Homo sapiens: one gene and its partner. The protein of the gene in region 2 interacts with the protein of the main gene of each other region in a biochemical or structural test. Each region holds a gene or a part of one and is shown on either strand. Other genes may lie near its edges. The genes, in order: PPP1R15A and TSN.

The links.
Region 1: the proteins of TSN (region 2) and PPP1R15A form a complex in vitro, tested with the Homo sapiens proteins (one study listed by BioGRID).

The regions. Positions count from the first base shown.
Region 1 is NC_000019.10:48,866,972-48,876,494, reverse strand, and holds PPP1R15A (protein phosphatase 1 regulatory subunit 15A), read right to left. Parts: upstream 4,075-9,523; 5' UTR 3,844-4,074; intron 3,271-3,843; 5' UTR 3,262-3,270; coding exon 1,597-3,261; intron 882-1,596; coding exon 522-881; 3' UTR 437-521; downstream 1-436. Other genes in the region: PLEKHA4 (pleckstrin homology domain-containing family A member 4), read left to right, coding at 8,875-8,958. UniProt on the Homo sapiens protein: Recruits the serine/threonine-protein phosphatase PPP1CA to prevents excessive phosphorylation of the translation initiation factor eIF-2A/EIF2S1, thereby reversing the shut-off of protein synthesis initiated by stress-inducible kinases and facilitating recovery of cells from stress.
Region 2 is NC_000002.12:121,749,449-121,759,396, reverse strand, and holds the start of TSN (translin), read right to left. Parts: upstream 3,747-9,948; 5' UTR 3,618-3,746; coding exon 3,552-3,617; exon of another isoform or gene 3,444-3,551; intron 2,158-3,443; coding exon 2,064-2,157; intron 688-2,063; coding exon 591-687; intron 1-590. UniProt on the Homo sapiens protein: DNA-binding protein that specifically recognizes consensus sequences at the breakpoint junctions in chromosomal translocations, mostly involving immunoglobulin (Ig)/T-cell receptor gene segments.

The DNA of each region.
Region 1 (9,523 bases), on a different chromosome or scaffold from region 2:
GGCCCCCTGTCCGGTGGAAACGTGACTCGTGTGACCTTATCAATCATTGGAGATGACTCACACTCCTTACCCTGCCCCTTTTGCTTTGTATCCAGTAAATATCAGCGCAGCCAGACATTCGGGGCCACTACTGGTCTCCGCGCATTGGTGGTAGTAATCCCCCGGGCCCAGCTGTCTTTTCTTTTATCTCTTTGTCTTGTATCTTTATTTCTACACTCTCTCGTCGCCGCACACAGGGAGAAGCCCACCGACCCTGTGGGGCTGGTCCCTGCACTGTTAGGTTCAAAAGAAGCCTCAGGATGAGTGGTAGCAAATTTGAGGAAAAGCGGTTTATCCGCCATTGAAGTGCTTTGTTTTATGCTATTCTCTTCCCAGCTCCCTCAGGGACCTGTAAGTAGAATGCTGTCAGTTTCTGACACATACAGACGCTGCTCGCTACAAATCAAAAGGCTTTATTCCTTATATAAACCCACACTTAGAAAAAATAAATAGTTAATAAATTATAGGCAAACCAGTTGGTCTCAGCCACGCCTCCCACTGAGGTCCAGGGCAGCCGCTGCAGCAGCAGACGAGCGGGAAGGTGTGGCCACAGCTTGGCTCAAGGGCGTGGTCTGGACTGGGGACGAAGGGACAGAGGAGGAAGGCAAGGTCTGGGTGAGGGCAGGGATGGGGGCTAAAGGTGGGTTCCTGAGGCGTGCCCAGGCTCTGGCCCGGGCAGCAGGGGTGAGGCAGGGGCTCAGCTCCTCCTGGGCCTGGGTGATGCGGCGTGCGAAGCGGCTGCGATCCCGAGCAAGCTGCTCCCAGGGGCCCTGGCGGGCGGCCTGGGCCGGCCCTGCCCAGACAGCCAGGAAATGGACAGTGACCTTCTCGGAGAAGCGCACCTGCGGGCAGACATGGGGACACAGGCAGGAGATGCACACAGCCACGGGAATCCGGATGGGGAGGGCGGGGAAGAGAGAGAGAGAAGCAAACAAAAATTAGTTATTACACAAAAATGCTTTCTATCTGGCTAGTCACTTGCCTGTCACTGTCACGGGATTCTCTATCTATCTGACTCACTGAAGGAAGAGGTGGTTTCCTGGGGCTGCTGTGAGCCACAGCTGCTCCCTCCTCCCCCAGGGGCCTGGCCTCTTACAAGGGATTGCGTGACAGCGTACACAGCCTTCTCCATGGAGATGACATGCAACCCTCTGCAACATACAGGGACCCAGAAGTCTCGGCCCCCAGCCCCCTTTCTTTCTAAGACTCAAGAATCTGGGCTCTCAGCCAGATGTGGTAGCTCACGCCTGTAATCCCAGCACTTTGGGAGGCTGAGATGGGTGGATCACGTGATGTCAGGAGTTTGAGACCAGCCTGGCCAACATGGCAAAACCCCCGTCTCTACTAAAAATACAAAAAAAATTAGCTGGGTGTGGTGTCATGCGCCTGTAATCCCAGATACTCTGGAGGCTGAGGCACGAGAATCGCCTGAACTTGGGCGGCAGAGGTTGGCAGTGAGCCAAGATCATGCCGCTGCACTCCAGCCTGGGTGACAGCCCAAGACTCCAACTCAATTAAAAAAAAAAAAAAAATAGAATCTGGGCTCTCAGCACCTACCTTTCTGGCCTTTAGGGGAGTCTCAGGGTCCGGATCATGAGTAGGGGTTTCTGGGCGCTTGAGCCGCCTTTGCAGTCGGAGGGGCAGCCTAGGAGGAGCCCAGGGAGGCGGTGGCTTCTCTCCAGGTACATAGATGGCCACTCGGAAGGGGCAGGGCTCAGCTTCTCCCCAGTCCTCAGCAGCTTCCTCTTCCTCTGTCTCTTTTCCAGGTCGATATCCCCAGCCCCTGAAGTGGGCCCTCTGGTCCGGGTGGGAGGGATGTGGGTCTGACTCAGCTTCTCCCAAGGCTGCTTCTGAATCATCTTCCTTATCCTCACTATCCACATCCTCATCTTCCTCCTCCTCCGTGTCCTCTCCTGGCCGATACACCCAGGCCTTCAAGAAAGCACTTGCAGGGGGTGTGGAAGCAGAAGTCTCAGCTTCTCTTTCATCCTCGGCTGATCCTGTATCACTGTCCTCATCTTCCTCCTCCTCTGTGTCCTCTCCTGGCTGATAGACCCAGGACTTCAAGAAGACACCTGTAGCAGGAGTGGAAGAGGAAGCCTCAGCTTCTCCCTCTTCCTCATCTGATCCAGAGTCACTGTCCTCATCTTCTTCCTCATCTTCCTCTTCCTCTGTGTCCTCTCCTGGCCAATACACCCAGGCCTTCAGGAAGGCACTTGGTGGGGGGATGCAGGGAGGACACTCAGCTTCTCCATCCTTCTCAGCTGCCCCCAAAGCCTTGACCTCACCCTCCTCTTCATCACTGGGTTGGCACCACCAGGACTTGAGCTGGGGCCTCTGGGCTGGGGCTGAGGATTGCGGCCCTGGGGCAGCTTCTCCTTTCCCAGTTTCTTTGTGTGCCTTTTCCTCCTTCTCCTCGGACGCCTCTCCTGAACGATACTCCCAGGACCTGGGGTCGGAGCCTGAAGATCGGGGGGACACGGAGGTCTTCCTGGCTCCTTTACTTCTTTCTGTTCTTTTATCCTCCGTGGCTTGATTCTCTTCCTCCCCTGGGCAAGACACCCAAGTGCTGGGCTTGGATCCTGGAGACAAGGCAGAAGTAGAGGTTCTGTGAGCTTCTTTCTTTACAGCTTCTTCATCGTCCTCCTCCTCCACGGCTGGACAACACTCCCGGTGTGATGGTGGATAAGAGAACTTGTTAACTCCCTCCTCTTCAGCAACTCCCTCTTCCTCGGCTTTCTCCTCCCCTGGGTTCTTATCAGAACCTTGCAGTGTCCTTATCAGAAGGCTGGGAGACAGGGGAGCACGCTGGCCATCTGCAAATTGACTTCCCTGCCCTCTAGGGACACTGGTTGCCTCTCGCTCACCATACATGCCATCATCATCATCCAAAAGTCCCCAGGCTTCAGGAAGGGAACTGCTGGTTTTCAGCCCCAGTGTTTCTCTGTCCTCTCCAGGGCCTCCACTGTCTTCAGCCTCCTCTTCAGGGCGTCTGCCCCAAGGGGTATGGGGGATTGCCAGAGGAGTCCTAGCTTCTCCCTCCAGGCCAGCTTCTACCAGAGCTGCTCCTTTTACTGCTTCCACCAGCCAGGGCTCTAGAGGTCCCAGGCCCCTCAGGCGGCTCCAGGCGCGGCTGAGGAGGCCCATCACTGGGGACAGGAGGAAGAAAGGGTGGGCATCCCTCCACGGGGTAGCCTGATGGGGTGCTTGGCCTGGGGCCATGTGTCTGGGCTGGAAAAGGGGGAGAAAAAAATAAAGTTTAGGGGCCATTTAGAGGATGGCATCCGGGCGTGACTATGAGTCATAGCAACGGAAATAGTAACACAACTATTGTAAATAGCAACGCGAGAGTCCCAAATTCCTTTCTGATCTCGGCCACGCCCATCTCTGTCCCTTGGCTCTGTTCTTATCTCTCAATAGCCAGGAGTCTGAGCCCCTAGTTCTGCCTTAGATCCAAGGGTCCAAGCCCCCAGCCCTCTCTTTCTTCAGACGCAGAACTCCCAGTCCCAAGAACCAAGAACAAAAGTCTTTACTTGCTTCCCTTGGCGACAAAGTCATAGTCCCTAGCTCTCTCATTCTGCTGAAGATTGACAAATCAAACCCTCACACCCTCCTCCCTCGCAGACTGAAACATTCTGACCCGACCCCCTACTTGGCAGATGATTCCTTCACGGGGGACCCAAGAATCTGGCTTCCAGATCCCTCCTCCCTCAGGCTCAGGACTCCAGGCTCCCAACCCCTTCTCCTTTCTAAATCCGGGCCCCCAGCCCCGTGGGGACCCAGGCGTTCCGACCCCTTACTCACCGGCTGGGAGCTGCGCGTCACCCCGGGGGCAGGAGCGCCGGTTCGGTCTGCCAGAAGCGATCACAGGTCCGGACGGTTAGGGAGGCCAGCGCGTTCATCTCACCCTCAGGCGTCGGGCTCCGAGTAACTCAGAGTATCTCCGGCTGCCTCAAGTGCCGTGGCGACAAGCGGGCGCGGGGTCGTGCAGCGTCTTGCATAAGATCAACAACTGGGATGGGAACCGATAAGAGCAACGAACACAATGGCCACTAGGCTTTTATAGCCTACCGCGCCCGGCGTGCTGACGTCACGAAGAGAGGCGGGGTTTCGAGACCGCAACCCGAAGGGTGGGAAGTGGAAGTAAGACAGGACTTCTCGCGGAGATTCCAGCTTTTGCAACGTCACGGCGGAGTTTCCGAGCGTGACCACGCCCCTCCAACAAACGAACTGTCAATCAAATGCGTGGCCCTGCTTCAACAGCGAGCCAGTTCTCTCTCAGCTCAGGGTCAATGCCTTCCCACCCCAATTTATTTATTTATTTAGTTAGTTATTTTGAGGCGGAGTTTTGCTCTTGTTGCTCAGGCTGGAATGCAAAGGGGCGATCTCGGCTCACCGCAACCTCCGCCTTCGGGGTTCAAGCGATTCTCCTGCCTCAGCATCCCGAGTATCTGGGATTGCAGGCATGTGCCGCCACGCCCGGCTAATTTTGTATTTGTTTAGTAGAGACGTAGTTTCTCCATGTTGGTCAGGCTGGTCTGGAACTCCCGACGTCAGGGGATCCTCCCGCCTTGGCCTCCCAAAGTGCTGGGATTGCAGGCATGTGCCGCCACGCCCGGCTAATTTTGTATTTGTTTAGTAGAGACGTAGTTTCTCCATGTTGGTCAGGCTGGTCTGGAACTCCCGACGTCAGGGGATCCTCCCGCCTTGGCCTCCCAAAGTGCTGGGATTACAGGCGTGAGTCACCGCGCCCGGCCTATTTATTTATTTATTTATTCATTATTTATTTTTCTGAGACGGGATTTCACCATGTTTGCTAGGCTGGTCTCGAACTCCTGACCTCAGGTGTTCTGCCTGCCTTGGCCTCCCAAAGTGCTGGGATTGCAGGCGTGAGCCACCACTCCAGGCCTATTTATTTATTTGTTATTTTTTATTTTTTTATTTTTTTTTGAGATGGAGTCTCGCTCTGTCACCGAGGCTGGAGTGCAATGGCGTGATCTCGGCTCACTGCAACCTCCATCTTCCGGGTTCAAGCGATTCTCCCTCTTCAGCCTCCGAGTAGCTGGGATTACAGGCACGCACTACCACACTCAGCTAATTTTTTGTATTTTTAGTAGAGACAGTGTTTCGCCATGTTGCCCAGGCTGTTCTCGAACTCCTGAGCTCAGGCAGTCTGCCTGCCTCGGCTTCCCAAAGTGTTAGGATTATAGGCGTGAGCTACTGCACCCAGCCTATTTATTTTTTGAGTAGGCGTCTCACTCTGTCGCCCAGGCTGGAGTTCAGTGGCGCCATCTCGGTTCACTGCAACCTCCACCTCCTGGGTTCCAGCGATTCTCCTGCCTGAGCCTCTGGAGTAGCTGGGATTACAGGCATGTGCCACAATGCCTGGGTAATTTTTGTATTTTTAGTAGAGACAGTGTTTCGCCATGTTGACCAGGCAGGTCTTTTTTTTTTTTTTTTTTTTTGAGACGGAGTCTTGCTCTGTCGCCCAGGCTGGAGTGCAGTGGCACGATCTTGGCTCACTGCAAGCTCCTCCTCCCTGGTTCTCGCCATTCTCCTGCCTCAGCCTCCCTAGTAGCTGGGACTACAGGTGCCCACCACCACGCCCGGCTAATTTTTTTTGTATTCTTAGTAGAGACGGGGTTTTTCACCGTGTTAACCAGGATGGTCTCGATCTCCTGACCTTGTGATCCACCCGCCTCGGCCTCCCAAAGTGCTGGGATTACAGGTGTGAGCCACCGCACCCGGCCGACCAGGCTGGTCTTGAACTCCTGACCTCAGGTGATCTGCCCGCCTTGGCTTCCCAAAGTGCTGGAATTACAGTTGTGATCCACTGTGCCTGGCCTCCTACCCCAATTTAGCCCACAGGCCCCAGCCTAGAGTCTCCCATTTTCTTTTTTTTTTCTTTTCTTTCTTTTTTCTTTTTCTTTCTTTTTTTTTTTTTTTTTTTGAGACGGTGTCTCACTCTGTCACCCAGGCTGGAGTGCAATGGCATGATCTTGGCTCACTGCAACCTCCGCCTCCCGGGTTCAAGCAATTCTCCTGCCTCAGCCTCCTGAGTAGTTGGGAGTACAGGAGCTTGCCACCACGCCTGGCTAGAGTCTCCTATTTTCACATGTGGTTGGTTTCCTCCCCGAGTGCGAGGGTGTCATTGTTCCCATTTCACAGATGGGGAAACAGGCTTGGAAATGAAGCCACTTGACCAAGATAGTCACAGCAGGGTCCAGATTCCTTGCAAATGAGAATGAGGATGTAAGCACTATGAGATCAGGCACTTTGCTGGGCTCAATGCTTTTCAAAAAAAAGTAATTAGGCTGAGCGCGGTGGCTCACGCCTGTAATCCTAGCACTTTGGGACGCTGAGGCAGGTGGATCATGAGGTCAGGAGATCAAGACCATCCTGGCTAACACGGTGAAACCCCGCCTCCACTAAAAATACAAAATAAATTAGCCGGGCGTGGTGGTGGGCACCTGTAGTCCCAGCTACTCGGGAGGCTGAGGCAGGAGAATGGCGTGAACCTGGGAGGCAGAGCTTGCAGTGAGCTGAGATCGTGCCACTGTACTCCAGCCTGGGCGACAGAGCGAGACTCCGTCTCAAAAAAATAATAATAATAATTAATTTAGGCCGGGTGCAGTGGCATGTGCCTGTAGTTCCAGCTACTCAGGAGGCTGAGTCAGGAGAATCGCTTGAACCCGGGAGGCGGAGGTTGCAGTGAGCCGAGATCACGCCACTGCACTCCAGCCTGGCGACAGAGCAAAACACCGCCTCAAAAAAAAAAAAAAAAGAAATTCATTTTCTAAATAGAGACAAGGTCTCGCTATGATGCCCAGGCTGGTGTTGAACTCCTGGTCTCAAGCGATCCTCCTGCCTTGGCCTCCCAAAGTGCTGGGATTACAGGCGTGAGCCATTGCACCCAGCCAGGGCTCACTGCTTTCTTCTCAGTGGCTGCAACAGACAGTGCCTGCACACAGTAGGTGCTCAACAGGTGCATGGTGAATGGCAGTTAAACCGAAAGCTCAGATTCCTTCCCGGTCACAGGCACAAGGCTCCACTCCTGGGTGTCATCTGCTTCAGACTTAGGCAGTAGCTCTGCCCCCACAAGCCGCGATTCTGCCTGGGTGGCACTCTTTGTGCGGGTGGGGGCGCTTCTGCTACAAGTTCCAGGCCCTGGGTGACAGTTCCAGCCCCCCGCTCTCCTCCCCTGCCTACGGATGCATAATCTTGTTCCTCAAAATATACCAAGGAATCATGTCTCTCTCCTGAGGGAGTTGTCCTCAGTCTAGAAGAGAATTCTCACCTGGATCTGAGGTGGAGGTTTGGAACTCTCCATTTCACCCTGCCCTACTGGGACCATCCCCTTTTCTCCCTAGGGGACCTGGACAAACCGTCCCTGGCCCCTTCCAAGCACAGCCATGTTTCCAGACCCCCAGCTCTTTCACGACTCAGGAGTCCTGATCCTAGCTCAGACCTTCTCGGGCACCCAGGAGTCTGGATCCCTAACCCATTCCCTCCAGGGCTTTGGAAATTTGAGTCCCCACCCCTTGCAGGACACAAGCCTCCTCCGTTTAGGACACCAGTGGCTCAGGCCCCCAACCACAGCAGCAAACCCACGGGGGCCCTGGAGTGCAGGCCTCAAGTCCAACTCTCCAAACACTGAGAAGTCCCAACCTTGGTCCTTAGGGGACCTGGGAATTGGGGGGCCCAAGCCCCTCCCTTCAGCTATGGGGGCAGCTGAGCCAGAGGTCAGGCTGTAGTGGGGAGGCCAGAAGGGGCGGGGACAGCCGGGATTGGGAGGGGAGAACAGCAGCGTGGGCGGCTGGCAGAGGCAGGGAAAGACCAGCAGAGAGGAAAGAGAAACTGGGAGAGGGAGGAAGGGAGAAAGTGAGAAGGGAAATCGGAAAGAGAAAAGGGAGGAAACGGCAGAGCCAGAGAGAAAGAGGAAGAGACTGAGTGTGAAGGAGAGAGGACACAGGGGATGACTGAGAGACAGAGAGAGAGAGAGAGAGAGAATGAGACAGAGACTTAAGGAAGAGACCCTGTGAGTCTGACAATAAAAGATTTGGACAGAAACAGAAAGATTGGAGAGAGAGAGAGAGGGAGAGAATGAGTGAGAGAGAGACTGGAAGAGACAGAGATCAGAGGGAGACACAGAAAGTGAGAGTGGGGAGAGAGGTAGTGTAAAAGGAAGAGAGAGAGAGAGAGACCGTAAGAGACAGGAGACAAAGAGACAAAAAGTGTGAGTGAGCAGGTGAGGAGAGAGATTGAGAACTATGAGAGACAGCAGCTAAGAGACAAAGGAGGCGGGAGACTGCCTAGGTGCCGCAGCACCCACACCGTCCTCTTGCCCCCCCGTCACTGGGACCCCAGAGCTGGGTAAGTTCCCTGGCTGGGCTGGGAGGGGCTCTCTGGGTTCACATTCCTGGTGCCGCAGGGCTTGGCTTGGGGAGTTGGCAGGGGTGGTTTGGGGGTGCATGTGGGAGGGCGGGAGACAGGTAGCCTGGGGCAGCCGGAAGGAGGCAGGGAATGGGGAGTCCCTAAGCACAGAGAGGGTCAAATTCCTGGCCTGAGTGCAGTGGGCAGGAATAAAGAAGCCCCTATTCTCTGGCCTGGGCTGCAGACAGCTGCCCCCTCCCGCAGCTGCCAGGGCCGCCTACCTCTCTTGGCACCACTCTTGGTATGTGGTCACGGGCCATGGCCTCCCCCAGCCCCCCAAGTCCCGAAACAACAGGCTCTTTCTCTGCAGCCTCCTCCGACCTCCAAGCCCCTGACCCCATCTCTGTCTCACACCCGTCACTGCAGAGACACAGCCCCTTTCTTTCTCTCCCCCAGCCCTTGATGGAGGGGAGCCGACCTCGCAGCAGCCTGAGCCTGGCCAGCAGCGCCTCCACCATCTCCTCGCTCAGCAGCCTGAGCCCCAAGGTTTGAGCTTCCTGGCGGGGATGGGGAGGAAGGTGGGGCTCTGGGCCGCCCATCCTTCTGTTTCCCCAAGGACTCTGGTTGTTAAGGACAAAGATCCTTAGCAACGGGGTCTGCCAGACATAGTAAGGTCCCAAATTGCCTACACACCGCAGCTAGGAATTCAGAGGCACTCCCAGCTCTGTCCCCACCCTTTGTATTTTCCTAATTCTAAACCAGAGTAACAACCTCCCTTGACCCTGGTTGCTAAGATAAAGCCGCTCCCCAGCCATGAGGCCCCTCGAGTTCTGAGAAGTAGTGGCTGCTCTTGATTAGTGCCAGAACTTGCTGTCCTATCTCTCGCCATCCAATCTACCCACTAATGAAATCCTATAAGGAGAGACCCTTCTCTGACAATAAGACCCAAGGGGCCTCCAGATACTTGCATCCCAAATCGGCATCCCAGCCAAAAGCTTAGGGAGACACTCATTTCTTTTTCCTCCTGCCGTTCCACACATATTGTTTCTCAAGTTCAGAGCCCAGAGATCTGATCTCAGCCTTGGTCAGTACCACCGCTTCCAAGGAAGGG
Region 2 (9,948 bases):
CCTCAGGTGATCTGCCCACCTAGGCCTCCCAAAGTGCTAGGATTACAGGTGTGAGCCACCACGCCTGGCCCATGTTTCACATTTATGACTGGCAAAATTTTCCTTCCCTACTGGTACATAAAATAATGGTGTATCTTAAAATCAACAGTGTTGATTTTAATAAGAAAACATGGCATAAAATATTAGCTAATTACATCACTTGGCAGTGAAATTCAAGCTTCAAAGTAAAACTCGACTCCATATATATACTGCCACCTAATCTCATTATTTCACTAACTATAGTTCATCCAATTTCACAAGAAACTTGAATATAGCAAAAAGATATTCTCACTTTTGACCCTCATACCACATTTTCTTTTTAATTGCTTTTTCACTGCAAAAGTAATACATGTTCCTTAAGATTTAGACAGTAAAAAGAAGAAAAAAATAAAATCACCAATTTTTGTCATGACCATTATTAGTTCGGTTTTTTCTCTTTTTGTTACTTCTACACAGGATGTTTGCCTAGTTGTAAGCAATCATTTGGTACACATAATTTTTCTCCTTTTTTTTACTTAACATTATAAAATAATGCTATTTTTCTTACAAACCTGTAATACTGTTCAGCAGGAAATTTGGTCTTCAAAGATGTTAGATGTGTTTTTACTGTACCAAAATGTTCTCGAGCTTTCAAACACCTCTTTGGAACTAGTCACAAAAGATAACCAAATGAAAAACTTAACCAAATTTCAAATACAGTTCTTGCTTAATAATCTAAGTAATCTATCTGGAAATTAATCAACAAAAAAACCTCACAACTAACGTACACATCTGTGCTTTTCAACCTGGCTTTCAAAATATCATCCCCAGTTTCCCTACTAATTAGCTATACTGAAAAATAAACAACTTGCTAAAAGGGAATATATTAGGAGACACACTGGTAATTGGTTTGGTTGTCATAAATAACGTCATCCTTAAGGAGATGCACACCAGCTGCTATTCCTGTTCACTCCTCAGAGGATGCCTAAAATTGGATTGCTTCTTCCTCCCATATTTGGCAGAAAAAAGCCTTTACCAAGTATTCACAATCAGGATGACCAACTCCGTATCATTAAGAAAAATCACTTGCCTCTGGCACGTGTAAATGCATTATTATATCATTCTTGTATCTGAAAATATACTTCAGCTCCTTTAGCTGTGCTGGCAATACCTTACAATGAAGGTTCCATGTCTAAACTTGACATATTTTATTTTCATTCAAGAGGCTGATTATAAACACATTAATTTGAGAACATTTTATACTGTTAATCTCATATTAAAAGGTATTCAATCACTGAAAGGCTGGATTCAAATACACACAGGTGCATATACACACATACACACATACACACACACACACACAAAGGGCCAAATAAAAGTCACTAGATAACACAAAAGAGTTACAAACCCTTGGGCCAGGTGCAGTGGCTCACGCCTGTAATCCCAGCACTTTGAGAGGCCCAGCCAGGCGGATCATCTGAGGTCAGGAGTGCAAGACCAGCCTGGCCAACAAAGTGAAACCCCATCTCTAATAAAAATACCAAAAAAAAAAAAAGTAGCTGGGCGTGATGGCGGGCACCTGTAACACCAGCTACTCAGGAGGCTGAGGCAGGAGAATTGCTTGAACCCAGGAGGCGGAGGTTGCAGTGAGCTGAGATGGCACCACTGCACTCCAGCCTGGGCAACAAGAGTGAAACTCCGTCTCAGAAAAAAAAAAAATTAAAAAAATAATAATAAACCCTTTTCCCGCTTACCCTGAGAATACTGTGCTGGCAGAGAGCTGCACTTTTTTTTTCTAAACAGGAAATGGGTTAAGCAATTGTAATTATCATCAGTAGAATGCCCTCGCAATAGAAAACATCTCTGTTTAAACCATACTGTGTGGAAGTGGAAGAAAAATCAACCAAAATTATCAAATCACCTACTTCTTCAATTTTTACTCACCATAAAGCATGATAGCCATTTTTCATTATAAAATGTCTTCTGGATAGAAACTCTCCCTCTAAATAAGAGACTGATAATTGGATACAAAACAAAGAACTTACTGTCCTGAAACCCAGCACCCTGATGGACCCCTTGCAGTAGAGTTAAAATCTCTCGAGCTGTTTGTTCTAAACTCTGTACAACTTTTCTGATTTCCTAGAGAGAATTAAAAATAAAAATCAGATACTCAACAGAATCATTGTCATACACTCACACAAAACACATTAGATAGCTTATGTGATCTATCATAACCAAGTTTGAATCCTGACTTTTCCACTTATTTCCTCTGTAAGACTTCAAAAAGTCACTAAAAAGCCTTAGATTCCTCAGATACCCTTTAAAGAATAATAGCCACCCATTAAACCCAAGTATTCAATTGGGACATTATAATGGATGACGTGTGTGAACGCAACTTGCAAAATGAAGAGTTAAATGCAACACAAGAGTCGGGTATTTCTAATTCTTTTTTCTTTTTTTTTTTTTTTTTGAGACGGAGTCTCGCTCTGTCACCCAGGCTGGAGTGCAGTGGCGCGATCTCAGCTCACCGCAACCTCCGCCTCCCGGGTTCACGCCATTCTCCTGCTTCAGCCTCCCGAGTAGCTGGGATTACAGGTGTGCGCAACCATGCCCAGTTAATGTTCTTTTATATTTTTAGTAGAGACAGGGTTTCCCCATGTTGGCCAGGCTGGTCTCAAACTCCTTACCTCAGGTGATCTGGCCGCCTCGGCCTCCCAAAATGCTGGAATTACAGGCATGAGGCGCCGCTCCCCGCCTCTAATTCATTTTTAAAATATTCACTGAGCATACTTATGTGCGAGGCACTGTGTAAATACCGGGGAACCAAGCACACAATCCCTTCCCTCTGGCGGTTTAACATACAATGAGGGAGAAGATTTTTTTAAAATAATCAATATTACACACATTAAAAAAAGTTAATGTGCTACTAGAAAACATAACAGGAAATAGATCGCTTAGACTGTGACGCCAATGAGATAAATACGAGACAATCAGGAAAAGAACGGGAAAGAAGCAAATTCCAGGAAAAGCAAACAGGCAGGAAGCTATTTGGGGCACTAGAAGAGGTAAAGTGAACATCATACACAAAGACAGAGAGCATAAACGAGATTGAAGAGAAACCATGTGAGCCACAGTAGAGTCTGATTTTTTATCCTGTGTGGCATAGGAAATCACAGGAGAGTTTTAAGCAGATCACATGTGCTTTTAAGACACCAACAAAAATACACGAAACGCTCATTCGCTGAAGACCAGGTGCTAATCGAGCCTTCGATATAAACAAGTGCTGAAAAGAAGGAAAACTGACACAAACGAGGCAAGTGATGCTGAGAAGCTGAGACTCGAACACGGGGAATCAGGACAGAGCAGCAAAATTTTGGGCGGGGGCGGGGAGTGCCTAACCTAAAGCTAGAGGGGAAGCAACCCACCCTCGGAGGCGTCCCCACCGCCCGAGACTGAGCGACAGAGGAGGGCCGGGCGAAGTGGCCCAACTAGGCATGGAAAGGCAAAGGGAATGGGGAAGGGAGGGGGCTCGCCTCTCGGATGTCCTGCTCGGCAGCCAAAAAGCCCTGCAGCTCCACGAAGATCTCGCTCACAGACATGGCGCCGGCTGCACAACAATCAGCCAGTGTAGCAAGGGCGGCCAAGGAAGTGGACGCCGCAGGCAACCAGCGCAATCAATCGCAACGGCCGCCGCTACCGCCGCGTCCCCCCGGTCTTACGCCACGACCGTCGCTAGGGTCCTCCGAGGCTCGCGGCGCGCCGGAGGACGGGCTGTCCGCCGCGCTGCCTGAGGCGCCGTCCGCTGCGTTCGGAACCGAGGCGCGCGTCCAAAGGGCAGAGGAGAGGGAGAGTGGGCGGGGCCTCAGTCTGAGGCCTTCAGACAGGCATCGCCAGAAACAACCTGCGAAGGCGGCCCTCGGAGCACGTGGGCCTGAGGGAGGGCGGGGACGGGCGTGTAGGTGGTGCGGGCAAGTGGGGCTGGTTAGCTTATATGTGTGTATTTATTTCATACACAACAACAGTTGGAGGGAAATATTTGACAACGAAAGAGTATGCACAAAAAACAGGTGCAGAAGAATGTAGAGAGAGTTCAGCCTTCGTGAGAGAGTAGGGGGCCAGTGCATTTCCAAAAAAAAGGAAAATAAAAGTAACGTATGTAGGACTGTGAGTAGGGAATGGATTGGGAGCGAAAATTTTCTGTGTAGATCTTTTAATGTCTTCTCTGTATGGCTGTATTACCTATTTTTAAATTAAACGGCTTTTTTAAGCGTGTGCGGTGGGATGTTTCTCTTTCCACTCACACCTTGTCCTAATTCCCCTTCCATGCCCTATAACGGTTTCCCCTTTCATGCCCTATAACGGTTTCCCCTTTGTTCTTGAAGAGTTATTTCATACACACATACTGTGTGTGTGTTCTTGAACAGTTATTCCATACACAAATACAGTGTGTGTGTGTGTTGCACTCGCCAGATGAATTGGAATGATTCTTATCAACTAAATGATAATTTATTGCTTGCTTTGTTTCTGACATTATTCTAAACTCTTTACATGAAGGATCATATTTAATTCTCATTATATGAGAATAATTTCATGTCCATGAAGAAGACAGTAAGACCACTAGCACCTACATTTTTAAAAAACTATCGGCCGGGCGCAGTGGCTCACACCTGTAATCCCAACACTTTGGGAGGCCAAGGCGGGCAGATCACAAAGTCAGGAGTTCGAGACCAGCCTGACCAACATGGTGAAACTCCGTCTCTACTAAAGATACAAAAACTAGCCGGGCGTGGTGGCGCGCGCCTGTAATCCCGGCAACTCGGGAGACTGAGGCAGAAGAATCGCTTGAACCCGGGAGGCACAGGTTGCAGTTAGCCGAGATCACACCACTGCACTATAGCCTGGGCAACAGACTCCGTCTCAAAAAAAATAAAAAACCCTTTCTTATCTCGTGTTTGTTCTCCCAAAACCCATTCGTCTGTCCTAAAGAATCCTATTTGTTCTCATACAAACTTTCGTCACCTCTCCGTTTTACCTAGAGTTAGGCACACAAGCCACTAACTGGTTTTTTGTTTCTTTCTTTTCTTGTGTGGTTTTCGTTATTGTTGTTTTGTTCTGTTTCATTTTTTGGTCTCATTACGTTGCCCAGTCGGGTCTTGAACTCCTGGGCTCAAGAAATCCTCCTGCCTCAGCCTTTCAAAATGCTGGGATTACAGGTATCAACCACTGCGCCCAGACATAAACCTCTAACCATTTAGTAGGCTAGCTACTTATTTTGCTAGCTCCAGCATCCATGCAAATAAGCCTTTTTTGGGAGTGTCCTATAAAAAGTTTAATTAGACCCTATTAGTCGATGGTGTTGTTGAGTTCTTATATGCCCATGCTGATTTTCTGTTCCGTTAATCTGTCTTTTGTCAGTTTAATTTGCAGGCCCTGGCTGGGCATGGTGGCTCACACCTGTAATCCCACCACTTTAAGAGGCTAACGAGGAGGATCACTTGAGCCCAAGAGTTCGAGACCAGCCTGGGCAACATAGTGAGACCGCCATCTCTACAAAAAATGTTTTGAAAATTGGCTGAACATGGTAGCGCATGCCTGTGGTCCCAGCTACTTCAGAGGCTGAGGTGGGAGGATCACTTGAGCTCAGGATGCCACGGCTGCAGTGAGCCATGATTGTGCCACTGCACTCAAGCCTGGGTGACAGAGTGAGACCCTGCCTCAAATAAATAATTTTTTGGAGGCCCCCATAAACTGAACAAAATATAATAAAGAGAAAGCTTTTCCTTCCCAATACTAGCTTCATAAAGAACTGGAAAGTGTTCCCTTCTGGTCTATTATCTGGAAGAGCTTATGCAGATTGCTGTTTGTTCTTTAAGTAGTTGTAGAATTCTCTGCTGAAACCTTCTCCAACGAAACCTTCTTTGGAGATCTCTTTTGGGGAATTTTTATTGCAAATTCAATTTCCTAATAGTCATAGTGCTACTCAAAGTATCTTTTTCTTTAAGAGATGGGGTCTCGCTCTGTCAGCAGGTGATTCTTCTGCCTCAGCCTACCCAGTAGCTGGGACTATAGGCACATGCCACCACACCTGGCTAATTTTTGTCTTTTTTGGTAGAGATGGGGTCTGGCTATGTTGCCCAGGCTACAAAGTATCTATTTAATATTGGGTGAGCTATGGTAGCTGTGTTTTTTTAAAGGAATTGGTTCATTTAGTCTAAGTCATTTATTTGAATAGAGTTGTTTATAGTATTTCCTTATATTCTTTTGTCATCTTCAGGCTCTCTAGTGCCACCCTGTATTTCATTCCTGATAGAAAGAATTTATCCATTTTCTCTGTTTCTCTTTGTCAATCTTGCTGGAGGTTTATCCACTTTATTGATCTCTTAAAATAACTAGTTCTCTGTTTAATTTTTTTTTTTTTTTGAGATGGAGTCTCTGTCACTTGGGGTGGAGTGCAGTGACGTGATCTCGGCTCACTGCAACCTCCGCCTCCTGGGTTCATATGATTCTCCTGCCTCAGCCTCCCGAGTAACTGGGATTACAGGCGCGCTCCGCTGCACCCAGCTGATTTTTGTATTTTTAGTAGAGATGGGGTTTCACCATGTTGCCCGGGCCGGCCTTGAACTCCTGACCTCAGGTGACCCACCCACCTCAGCCTCCCAAAGTGCTGGGATTACAGGCATAAGCCACCATGCCCGATTCTGTTTCAATTCCATCAATTTCTACTCTTTATTATTTTCTTTTTTTTTTGAGACAGAGTCTCGCTCTGTCGCCCAGGCTGGAGTGCAGTGGCGCAATCTCGGCTCACTGCAAGCTCTGCCTCCCGGGTTCACGCCATTCTCCTGCCTCAGCCTCCTGAGTAGCTGGGACTACAGGCGCTCGCCACTGCACCCAACTAATTTTTTGTATTTTTAGTAGAGACAGGGTTTCACCTTGTTAGCCAGGATGGTCTCGATCTCCTGACCTCGTGATCTGCCCGCCTCGGCCTCCCAACGTGCTGGGATTACAGGTGTGAGCCACCGCACCCGGCCGTCTGCTCTTTATTATTTTCTTCTTTCTGCTCGTTTTGGTTTTATTTTACTCTTCTAGGTTCTTGAGATGGAGCTTAGATTATTAAGATTTTCCCACTTTTCTAATGGATGCATTTTAGTGCTGTTAACTTTCCCTCTGGGCACTGCTCTTAGCTGTGTACCACAAATTTTTGGTATGTTGTAGTTTCATTTTTATTTAGTTCAATGTATTTTTTAAATTTCTCTTGTGACTTCCTAATTGATTATCTAGAAGTATATGGTTTAATTTTCAAGTGTTTAGAGATTTTTCTGTTATTGTGTTATTGATTGCTAGTTTGAATCTATATAGTCAGAGAACGAGCTATGATTCAATTCTCGTAAATGTGTTAAGATTTTGTTTAAATAGTCCGGAATATGGTCTCTCTTAGTATATATTCCACAGGCAATTGAAAGGATCTGTTGTTGGGTGGAGTGGCAATTCGGCCCTTTTAGCTGTTGAGTTCTTCTATGCCCTGCTGATTTGTCTAGTTGTTCTATTAATTTCTTAAGGGATTTTCTACAGAATCAGTCATTTCATCTGTGAACAAATAGTTTTATTTCTTCATCCCAATCTATATACTTCCTATTTCCTTTTCCTGTCCTAATGCATTATATAGGACTTCCAGTAAGATATTGGATAGGAATGGAAAAAGGACATCCTTGCCTTCTTCCCAACCTTAGAGCCAAAGTGTCCAGTTTCTCACCCTTAACTATGATGTTAGCTGTAGGGTGTTGTTGTTGTTGTTATTATTGTTTGTTTGTTTGTTAGTTTTTAGAGGTAGGGTCTTACTTTATCACCCAGGCTGAAGTACAGTGGTATGATCATAGCTCACTGCAGCCTTGAACTCCTGAGCTCAATTGATCCTCCTGCCTCAGCTTCCAGAGTAGTGGGGACTACAGGTATGCACCACCATGCTTTAATAATTTTTTTTTAATTTTTTCGTAGACATGGGGTCTGGTCATGTTGCTCAGGCTAGTCTTGAACTCCTGGCCTCAAGGGATCCTCCTGCCTACGCCTCCCAAAGTGCTGGAATTATAGGCGTGAGCCACTGTGCCTGGCCTTGTTTTGGTTTTGGTTTTTTAAGAGACATGGTCTTGCTCTGTCACCCAGGCTGGAGTGCAATGACATGACCACAGCTCACTGCAGCCTTAACCTACTGGGCTCAAGCAATCTTCCCACCTCAGCCTCCCAAGTAGCTGGGACTATAGGTGTGTGTCATCCAGCCTAGCTAAATTTTTTTTATTTTTGGTAGAGATAGAATCTCACTGTGTTGCTCAGGCTGGTCCTGAACTCCTGGGCTCAAGCAGTTCTCTTGCTTTGGCCTCCCAACGTGGTGGGATTACAGGCATGAGCCACTGCACCTGGCCTTATTCTATCAATTGTCAATAGAGGGGTCTCTAACTATAATTATAGATTTTTTTTTTTTTTTTGAGACGGAGTCTCACTCTGTCACCAGGCTGGAGTGTAGTGGCACAATATCTACTCACTGCAACCTCCGCCTCCTGGGTTCAAGCAATTCTCCTGCCTCAGCCTCCCAAGTAGCTGGGACTACAGGTGCACACCACCACGCCCAGCTAATTTTTGTATTTTTAGTAGAGACGGGGTTTTACCATATTGACCAGACTGGTCTCGATCTCTTGACCTCGTGATCCACCCGCCTCAGTCTCCCAAAGTGTTGGGATTACAGGCATGAGCCACAGCACCAGGCCATAGATTTCTTTATTTCCCCTCTCAGTTCTGTCAGTTTTTGTTTCACAAATTTGCAACTCTGTTGCTTGCTACATACACATTTAGGATTATTATGTCTTCTTAGTGGATAGACTTTTTATGATTATATGTTCCTCTCTGTCACTCATCATTTTTTTCTACTGGTCTATTTTATCTGATATTTTTATAGCCACTCTTGCTTTCCTTTTATTATTTGGATTATATATGTTTTATCATTTTTTAATTTCAACCTGCCTCTATCATTGCCTATATCTTTATATTTGAAGTGAATTTCTTCCAGATAGGATATAGTTGGGTCTTTTTTGGAAAATTAACTCACCAATCTCTGTCCTTCAATTGGTATATTTAAACCATTTATATTTGATGTTATTATTGACCTGTTAGCACTTAAGTCTGCCATTTTGGTTTTTTGCTTTCTGTTTGTTCTCTGTTTTTTATTTCTGTTTTCTTTTTCTGCCTTCCTGTGAACATTTTTAAGAATTCCACTTTGCACTGTTTTTGAAAAGATCTCTTTGCATAGCTTTGTGGTTACTCTAAATGTTGCGTGTGTGTGTTTGTGTGTGTGTGTGTGTGTGTGTGTGTGTGTGTAGACATTTATCACTGTCTACTGGTATTATCATTTTATTAGCTCAAGTGAAATATAGAAACTTCATTTCCCTATATCCCTTTACTCTCCCCCATTAATAATAGTTGAATGTTTCCTCTACATACAGTTATAACCACATCAGACAATATTATAATTTTCGCTTCAACAATCAAACATCGTTTAGAAAACTCAAGAGAAGGAAAGTCTATTGAATTTACCCATATTTTTGCTTACTGTGTTCTTTCTTCCTTCCGAATGTTCCAAGGTTTCCTTCTCTTATTGTTTCTTTCCCATTTAGAGAATTTTTTGCCATTCTTTTAGGGTAGGTCTGCTGCAACAAATTCTAATAGCTTTCCTTTATCTGCAAATGTCTTGATTTCCCCTTCATTGCTAATGTATATTTTCCCTGTGTATAGGATTCTGGGCTGACAGTTCTTCACATTCACCCTTTGAAAAATTTGCCACTTTTCTCTAAACTTCAGGGTTTTTAATGAGAAATCTTCTGTCAATTATTTTTTCCTTACAGGTAAAGTCTTTTTTTTCCTCTGGCTGCTTTTGAGATTTTTTTT